Regions from separate parts of the Homo sapiens genome. Here region 2 is reported to be linked to region 1. The links are microRNA targets in miRTarBase. Many come from high-throughput screens and were not tested one by one. Region 1 holds a microRNA gene; the other region holds the end of a gene's coding sequence.

Evidence for each region. Region 1 holds the annotated microRNA hsa-miR-518c-3p (CAAAGCGCUUCUCUUUAGAGUGU, at 1,179-1,201, shown strand). A microRNA usually pairs through its seed, bases 2 to 8, with sites in the 3' UTR of a target mRNA and lowers its output. Matches are read on the target gene's strand: a 7mer-m8 pairs with bases 2 to 8, a 7mer-A1 pairs with bases 2 to 7 and ends in A, and an 8mer does both.
Region 2: miRTarBase lists ACVR1B as a target of hsa-miR-518c-3p. Seed matches in the 3' UTR shown: 7mer-m8 at 1,259-1,265.

Annotation. Positions count from the first base shown.
Region 1 is chr19:53,707,618-53,711,769 of GRCh38, forward strand. It overlaps MIR518C (microRNA 518c), which reads left to right and starts at 1,118; the gene lies at 1,118-1,218. MIR524 (microRNA 524) reads left to right here and starts at 3,385; the gene lies at 3,385-3,471. It overlaps LOC107985346 (a long non-coding RNA gene), which reads left to right. Exons shown (of 5, transcript XR_001753998.1): 5 at 652-692.
Region 2 is chr12:51,993,319-51,997,318 of GRCh38, forward strand. It overlaps ACVR1B (activin A receptor type 1B), which reads left to right. Exons shown (of 9, transcript NM_004302.5): 9 at 667-3,760. The coding sequence ends at 792. Among named protein-coding and RNA genes, the nearest start is that of TAMALIN, 12 kb to the right of the region's middle.

The DNA of each region.
Region 1 (4,152 bases):
GCTTCTGTTTTTGTTTTGATTTTTTCTTTTTTTTTTTTTTGAGATGGAGTTTCGTTCTTGCTGCCCAAGCACTAGTATGTAGGAATTATTCTTTATGTGAGCATATAGTACATGGAACTTTGTTTTTTTGAGACAGGGTCTCCAAAATATATACATGTTATCATATAATCTTCTATGTATAATTATATTCACACAAAATAGTCTTCTGCACACAGAGAATACTCTTATATCACTTTGGGGTTGTTTTTGTTTGTGTATTTTTTTTTTTTTTAATTTTTTTTGAGACACCATCTGGCTCTATTGCCCAGGCTGGAGTGCAGTGTTGTGACCTCAACTCACTGCAGCCTCTACCTCCCACCTCAGCCTCCTGAATTAGTGTCTACAGGCATGAACCACTACACCTGGCTATCTTTTGTATTTTTACAGATGAGGTTTTACTATGTTGGGCAGGCTAGTTTTGAACTCGAGCTCATGTAATTTTCCCGCCTTCGACTCCTAAAGTGCTGGGATTAGAGGTGTAAGCCACTGCACTCCACCCGTACTTCTGTACAAATGTTATTGAGGAGCTTTTACGGCCTAGGCAGTGCTCTATCCTGGAGAATGTTTGTGTGTAAGACAATGCATATTCTTTTTTTCTTTCCTGTCACCCAGGCTGGAGTGCATTGGCACGATCTCGTCTCACTGCAACCTCCGCCTCCCGGGTTCAAGCAATTCTCCTGCCTCAGCCTCCTGAGTAGCTGGGATTACAGGTGGGCACCACCACGCCTGGCAAATTTAGATTCCATTTTGGATGCTCCCATCATGACTGTGTGTCCCTGTGCTGGAACTCAAGTGACCATGTGACTCAATCCATTGCTGTTCTCTAGAAATCCACCTCAATTCTCTTGGTTAAAGGTAAGGTATGTGTAGTGGGCATTGCTTTTTCTCCTTGGAGACAAAACTTAGGAGGATTCCCCTTGATGAACAAGGCTAATCTGCTGAGCCTGGAGATTGTCCTTTTAGAGGTTTATGTTCTGGATTCCAGAAAACGGTCAAACAGCGAATAAATGCATCTTTATATTTGTGTCCATCTTAACCTGGTCAAGGAAAATTTCAACAAAAATCCCAGATGGCTGGAGCGAGAAGATCTCATGCTGTGACTCTCTGGAGGGAAGCACTTTCTGTTGTCTGAAAGAAAACAAAGCGCTTCTCTTTAGAGTGTTACGGTTTGAGAAAAGCAACGTTGAAGTTGATGCTGATCTTGGTAATACATTCGCAGAGCATGCTTATCAGGCTTGGATGACGGCAGGGTTCTGTTTTGGTTTTATTTTTTTCCAAGACCAGTCTCTGTTGCCCAGGCTGGAGAGGGAGGGGTTGCACTCCAAACTAGATCTCTTGGGGTCATGTCTTGCTCTATTATTATTATTAATTCTTATTTTTGTGTGTGTGTGAGACGGAGTCTCGCTCTGTCACCAGGTTGGAGTCCAGTGGCGGAATCTCAGCTCACTGCAACCTCCGACTCCGTGGTTCAAGCGATTCTCCTGCCTCAGCCTCCTGAGTAGCTGGGATTACAGGCACGCACCGCCATGCCGAGCTAATTTTTGTATTTTTAGTAGAGACCGGGTTTCACCACGTTGGCCAGGATGGTCTCAAACTCCTGACCTCATGATCCACCCGCCTCGGCCTCCCAAAGTGCTGGGATTACAGGTGTGAGCCTCCGTGCCCAGCCTGTTATTTTATTTTGTTTTATTTTATTTATTTTATTTTATTTTGAGATGGAGACTGGCTCTGTCGCCCAGGCTGGAATGCAGTGGCAGGATCTCCACTCACTGTAACTCCCACCTCTGTCGCCCAGGCTGGAGTGCAGTGGCAGGATCTCCACTCACCGTGGAGTTCCAGTGATTCTTTCACCTTAGCCTCGCAAATAGCTGGTATTACAAGCACCCACCAACACACCCTGCCAATTTTTGTATTTTTAGACAAGAAAGGGTTTCGCCATGTTGGCCAGGCTGGTCTCGACTCCTGACCTTAAGTGATCCACCTCCCTGGCCTCCCAAAGTGCTGGGATTACAGGCGTGAGCCACCACGTCCAGCCTCAAGTGGTCTTCTTGTCAGCCTCGCAAGTAGTTGGGCTCAGGTTTTAATTTTTGGTAGAGATGGGGTCTCTTTTGCCTGGGATGGTCTCAGCTGAGCTTAAGTGATCCTAAATGTGTGAGCCACCTTGTCCCATTTCAAAGATAGGTGACACGGCCAGGCATCCTGGGACACACAGGGTCCCAGTTACTGCAAAGGCTAGGGTGGGAGGGTCCTTTGATTTTAAGGCTATACCATGCACTGATCACACCTTTGAATAGCCACTGCACTCCGGCCTGGGCCACATAGCAAGATCCCATCTCTTTAAAAACGCAGATTACATGCCATCTGGTTCCTGAGGCTCCATTTGGGTTGGTCACTTCAAATACAGGCCTTTCATCAGTTTAGTTTAATCAATCCAAACCATGTTTCCTTCATTAGGAGAGTAAGGGCCAGGTGTGTAATCCAAGCACTTTGGGAGACTGAAGCAGGCGGATCAGGAGGTCAGGAGTTCGAGACCAGCCTGACCAATATGGTGAAACCCCGTCTCTACTAAAAATACAAAGATTAAGTGGGCGTGGTGGTGCGTGCTTGTAATCCCAGCTACTCAGGAGGCTGAGGCAGCAGAATCTCTTCAACCCAGGAGGCGGAGGTTGCAGTGAGCCAAGATCGCGCAGGTGCACTCCAGCCTGGGCGACAGAGCGAGGCTCCATCTCAAAACAAAACAAAACAAAAAATATAGGCCTCCACATCTATCCAGTCTATTCTGTAATCCCAATGGATGTCAATATTAATACAATGTTCTTATTTTTTCTATTTATTTGTATCTTTTTAGTTGAATCTCCTTGTCCCTGACACTAAATTTTTTTTATTTTTATTTATTTATTTTTTTTGAAACAGTCTTGCTCTGTCGCCCAGGCTGCAGTACAGTGGCGCAATCTCGGCTTACTGTAGCCTCTGTCTCCCGGGTTCCAGTGATTCTCCTTCCCCAACTCCCGGGTAACTGGGATTTTCAGGCACACACCACCACCCCAGCTAATTTTTTTGTACGTTTAGTAGAGACAGGGTTTCACCATATTGGGCAGGCTGGCCTTGAACTCCTGAACTAAGGTGATCCGCCCACCTCGGCCTCCCAAAGTGCTGGGATTAGGGATAAGGCTAACCTGCTTATTCTTTGTAGCAAGGAACTGGAGATGGTCATTTTAGGGGTTTATGTTCTGGATTCCAGAAAACATGCAAACAGGGCCAATAAATGCATCCTCATTTTTGTGTCCATTTTAACCTGGGCAAGGAAAATTCCAACAAAAAACCCAGAGTTCTGGAGCAAGAAGATCTCATGCTGTGACCCTACAAAGGGAAGCACTTTCTCTTGTCCAAAGGAAAAGAAGGCGCTTCCCTTTGGAGTGTTACGGTTTGAGAAAAGCAGCGTTGAAGTTGATGCTTATCTCGGTAATACATTTGTAGAGCATGCTTATCATGAGGCTTGGACGATGGCGGGGTTCTGTTTTGGTTTTGCTTTTTTATTCTAAGACAGGATCTCTGTTGCCCAGGCTGGAGTGCGGTGGCACATCCAACCTAGGTCTTTTGGATTCAAATGGTTTTTTTAGCGGACAGAGTCTCTCTATCACCCAGGCTGAAGTGCAGTGGTGTGATCTCGGCTCACTGCAACCTCCACCTCCCAGGTTCAAGCGAGTCTCCTGCCTCAGCTTCCCAAGTAGGTGAGATTACAGGTGCCCATCACCACACCTGGATAATATTTTCATTTTTTAAAATTCATTTATTTATGTTTTTGAGATGGAGTCTCACTGTTACCCAGGCTGGAGGGCCGAGGCGTGATCTCTGCTCAGTGCAACCTCTGCCTCCCGGATTCAAGCAATTCTTCTACCTCAGCCTCCTGAGTAGCTAGAATTACGGGAGCCCACCACCACACCTGGCTACTTTTTGTTTTTTGTTTTTTGTTTTTTTTTTAGTAGAGATGGGATTTCACCATGTTTGCCAGGCTGGTCTCAAACCCCTGACCTCAAGTTAGCCACCGGCCTCTGCCTCCCAAAGTGCTGGGATTACAGGCATGAGCCACCACGCCTGGCCTAATTTTTATAT
Region 2 (4,000 bases), not on the chromosome of region 1:
AGCTGATGCTTTCGTGTTGCATCATAGAGCAGCACTTCTCACCGCACTCCTTGGAACCCTCAGGGCAGGGTTTGCTTCAGAGGGCAGGTGAGACCAAAAGAGCTGGCCGTTAGCTGCAGCGTTTGCCTTTCACTTGTGTAAGCTGTCCCTTAAAAAGGAAGAGCCGCCTGGCGCGGTGGCTCATGCCTGTAATCCCAGCACTTTGGGAGGCCGAGGTGGGCAGATCACAAGGTCGAGAGAGCGAGACCATCCTGGCCAACCAATATGGTAAAACCCCATCTCTACTAAAAATACAAAAATCAGCTGGGCGTAGTGGTGTGTGCCTGTAGTCCCAGCTACTGGGGAGGCTGAGACAGGAGAATCACTTGAACCCGGGAGGCGGAGGTTGCGGTGAGCCAAGATTGCGCCACTGCACTCCAGCCTGGGTGACAGAGTGAGACTCCTTCTAAAAAAAAAAAAAAAAAAAAAAAAAAAAAAAAAAAAAAAGGAAGAGCCAGGGAACAAAGGGAGCCTTGCAGAGCATTTCCCTAAGGTCGGCCGCCGGGTGGATGTGGATCTGCCAGACTGCACTGAGCGGGAGGTGGCAGGGAAATGAGTGAGAGCCTAGGGACCAGAAAGGCTTCTCCAGGGCATGACCGAGCTGATGGCTCCTGGGTCTCTGCACAGGCACTGCGGGTGATGGGGAAGATGATGCGAGAGTGTTGGTATGCCAACGGCGCAGCCCGCCTGACGGCCCTGCGCATCAAGAAGACCCTCTCCCAGCTCAGCGTGCAGGAAGACGTGAAGATCTAACTGCTCCCTCTCTCCACACGGAGCTCCTGGCAGCGAGAACTACGCACAGCTGCCGCGTTGAGCGTACGATGGAGGCCTACCTCTCGTTTCTGCCCAGCCCTCTGTGGCCAGGAGCCCTGGCCCGCAAGAGGGACAGAGCCCGGGAGAGACTCGCTCACTCCCATGTTGGGTTTGAGACAGACACCTTTTCTATTTACCTCCTAATGGCATGGAGACTCTGAGAGCGAATTGTGTGGAGAACTCAGTGCCACACCTCGAACTGGTTGTAGTGGGAAGTCCCGCGAAACCCGGTGCATCTGGCACGTGGCCAGGAGCCATGACAGGGGCGCTTGGGAGGGGCCGGAGGAACCGAGGTGTTGCCAGTGCTAAGCTGCCCTGAGGGTTTCCTTCGGGGACCAGCCCACAGCACACCAAGGTGGCCCGGAAGAACCAGAAGTGCAGCCCCTCTCACAGGCAGCTCTGAGCCGCGCTTTCCCCTCCTCCCTGGGATGGACGCTGCCGGGAGACTGCCAGTGGAGACGGAATCTGCCGCTTTGTCTGTCCAGCCGTGTGTGCATGTGCCGAGGTGCGTCCCCCGTTGTGCCTGGTTCGTGCCATGCCCTTACACGTGCGTGTGAGTGTGTGTGTGTGTCTGTAGGTGCGCACTTACCTGCTTGAGCTTTCTGTGCATGTGCAGGTCGGGGGTGTGGTCGTCATGCTGTCCGTGCTTGCTGGTGCCTCTTTTCAGTAGTGAGCAGCATCTAGTTTCCCTGGTGCCCTTCCCTGGAGGTCTCTCCCTCCCCCAGAGCCCCTCATGCCACAGTGGTACTCTGTGTCTGGCAGGCTACTCTGCCCACCCCAGCATCAGCACAGCTCTCCTCCTCCATCTCAGACTGTGGAACCAAAGCTGGCCCAGTTGTCCATGACAAAAGAGGCTTTTGGGCCAAAATGTGAGGGTGGTGGGTGGGATGGGCAGGGAAGGAATCCTGGTGGAAGTCTTGGGTGTTAGTGTCAGCCATGGGAAATGAGCCAGCCCAAGGGCATCATCCTCAGCAGCATCGAGGAAGGGCCGAGGAATGTGAAGCCAGATCTCGGGACTCAGATTGGAATGTTACATCTGTCTTTCATCTCCCAGATCCTGGAAACAGCAGTGTATATTTTTGGTGGTGGTGGGTTTGGGGTGGGGAAGGGAAGGGCGGGCAAGGAGTGGGGAGGGAGTCTGGGGTGGGAGGGAGGCATCTGCATGGGTCTTCTTTTACTGGACTGTCTGATCAGGGTGGAGGGAAGGTGAGAGGTTTGCATCCACTTCAGGAGCCCTACTGAAGGGAACAGCCTGAGCCGAACATGTTATTTAACCTGAGTATAGTATTTAACGAAGCCTAGAAGCACGGCTGTGGGTGGTGATTTGGTCAGCATATCTTAGGTATATAATAACTTTGAAGCCATAACTTTTAACTGGAGTGGTTTGATTTCTTTTTTTAATTTTATTGGGAGGGTTTGGATTTTAACTTTTTTTAATGTTGTTAAATATTAAGTTTTTGTAAAAGGAAAACCATCTCTGTGATTACCTCTCAATCTATTTGTTTTTAAAGAAATCCCTAAAAAAAAAAATTATCCAATTGAACGCACATAGCTCAATCACACTGGAAATGTTTGTCCTTGCACCTGAGCCTGTTCCCACTCAGCAGTGAGAGTTCCTCTTTGCCCTGAGGCTCAGTCTCTCTCGTATTTTGTCCCCACCCCCAATTCCTTGAGTGGTTTTTGCTCTAGGGCCCTTTCTTGCACTGTCCAGCTGGTTGTACCCTCTCCAGGCATTTATTCAACAAATGTGGGTGAAGTGCCTGCTGGGTGCCAGGTGCTGGGAATACATCTGTGGACAAGACATGCTTGGGTCCTACTCCTGGAGCACTGTAAAAAGAGCTGATTCAAGTAAGTAGATGCCTGTTTTGAGACCAGAAGGTTTCATAATTGGTTCTACGACCCTTTTGAGCCTAGAATTATTGTTCTTATATAAGATCACTGAAGAAAGAGGAACCCCCACAACCCCCTCCACAAAGAGACCAGGGGCGGGTGATGAGACCTGGGGTTTAGAACCCCAGGTGAGACCTCAAATCACTGCATTCATTCTGAGCCCCCTTCCTGTCCCCAGGGGAGGTGTATTGTGTATGTAGCCTTAGAGCATCTCTGCCTCCAACCCAGCAGTTCTCTGCCAAAGCTTGTGGAGGAGGGAGAGCCCTGTCCCTGCCCTCAGGCTCCCCAGTGCTCCTGGCCCTTCTATTTATTTGACTGATTATTGCTTCTTTCCTTGCATTAAAGGAGATCTTCCCCTAACCTTTGGGCCAATTTACTGGCCACTAATTTCGTTTAAATACCATTGTGTCATTGGGGGGACCGTCTTTACCCCTGCTGACCTCCCACCTATCCGCCCTGCAGCAGAACCTTGGCGGTTTATAGGTAATGATGGAACTTAGACTCCTCTTCCCAGAGTCACAAGTAGCCTCTGGGATCTGCCAACACACGTCCACTCCCAAGCCACTAGCCCACTCCCCAGTTGGCCCTTCTGCCCTTACCCCACACACAGTCCAACTCTTCCACCTCTGGGGAAGATGGAGCAGGTCTTTGGGAAGCTCCCACACCCACCTCTGCCACTCTTAACACTAAGTGAGAGTTGGGGAGAAACTGAAGCCGTGTTTTTGGCCCCCCGAGGCTAACCCTGATCCATAGTGCTACCTGCACCTCTGGATTCTGGATTCACAGACCAAGTCCAAGCCCGTTCTTACGTCGCCATAAAGGCCCCCGAACGGCATTCTCGGTACTTCTGTTTGTTTTTGTACATTTTATTAGAAAGGACTGTAAAATAGCCACTTAGACACTTTACCTCTTCAGTATGCAAATGTAAATAAATTGTAATATAGGAAATCTTTTGTTTTAATATAAGAATGAGCCTGTCCAATTTCTGCTGTACATTATTAAAAGTTTTATTCACAGAGCTGCTCTGGTGCCATCTGTCCCACATACGTAGTACGGCCACCCAGCTTTTGTCAGGGGAGTTGGGAATGGGGTGGATGTTCTAAGGTCAGGGTCTCGTGCTCACACCAGCTGTAGCAGACCCCAGCAAGAGGAATGCTGTTCCCAACATCCTGGGTCTTCCTGAGACTGTTGCTTTGTGTTCCTAGAGGGCGGGTCTGGCATGCAAGGGACAGAAGACACAAAGCATCCTTTTCTTGGG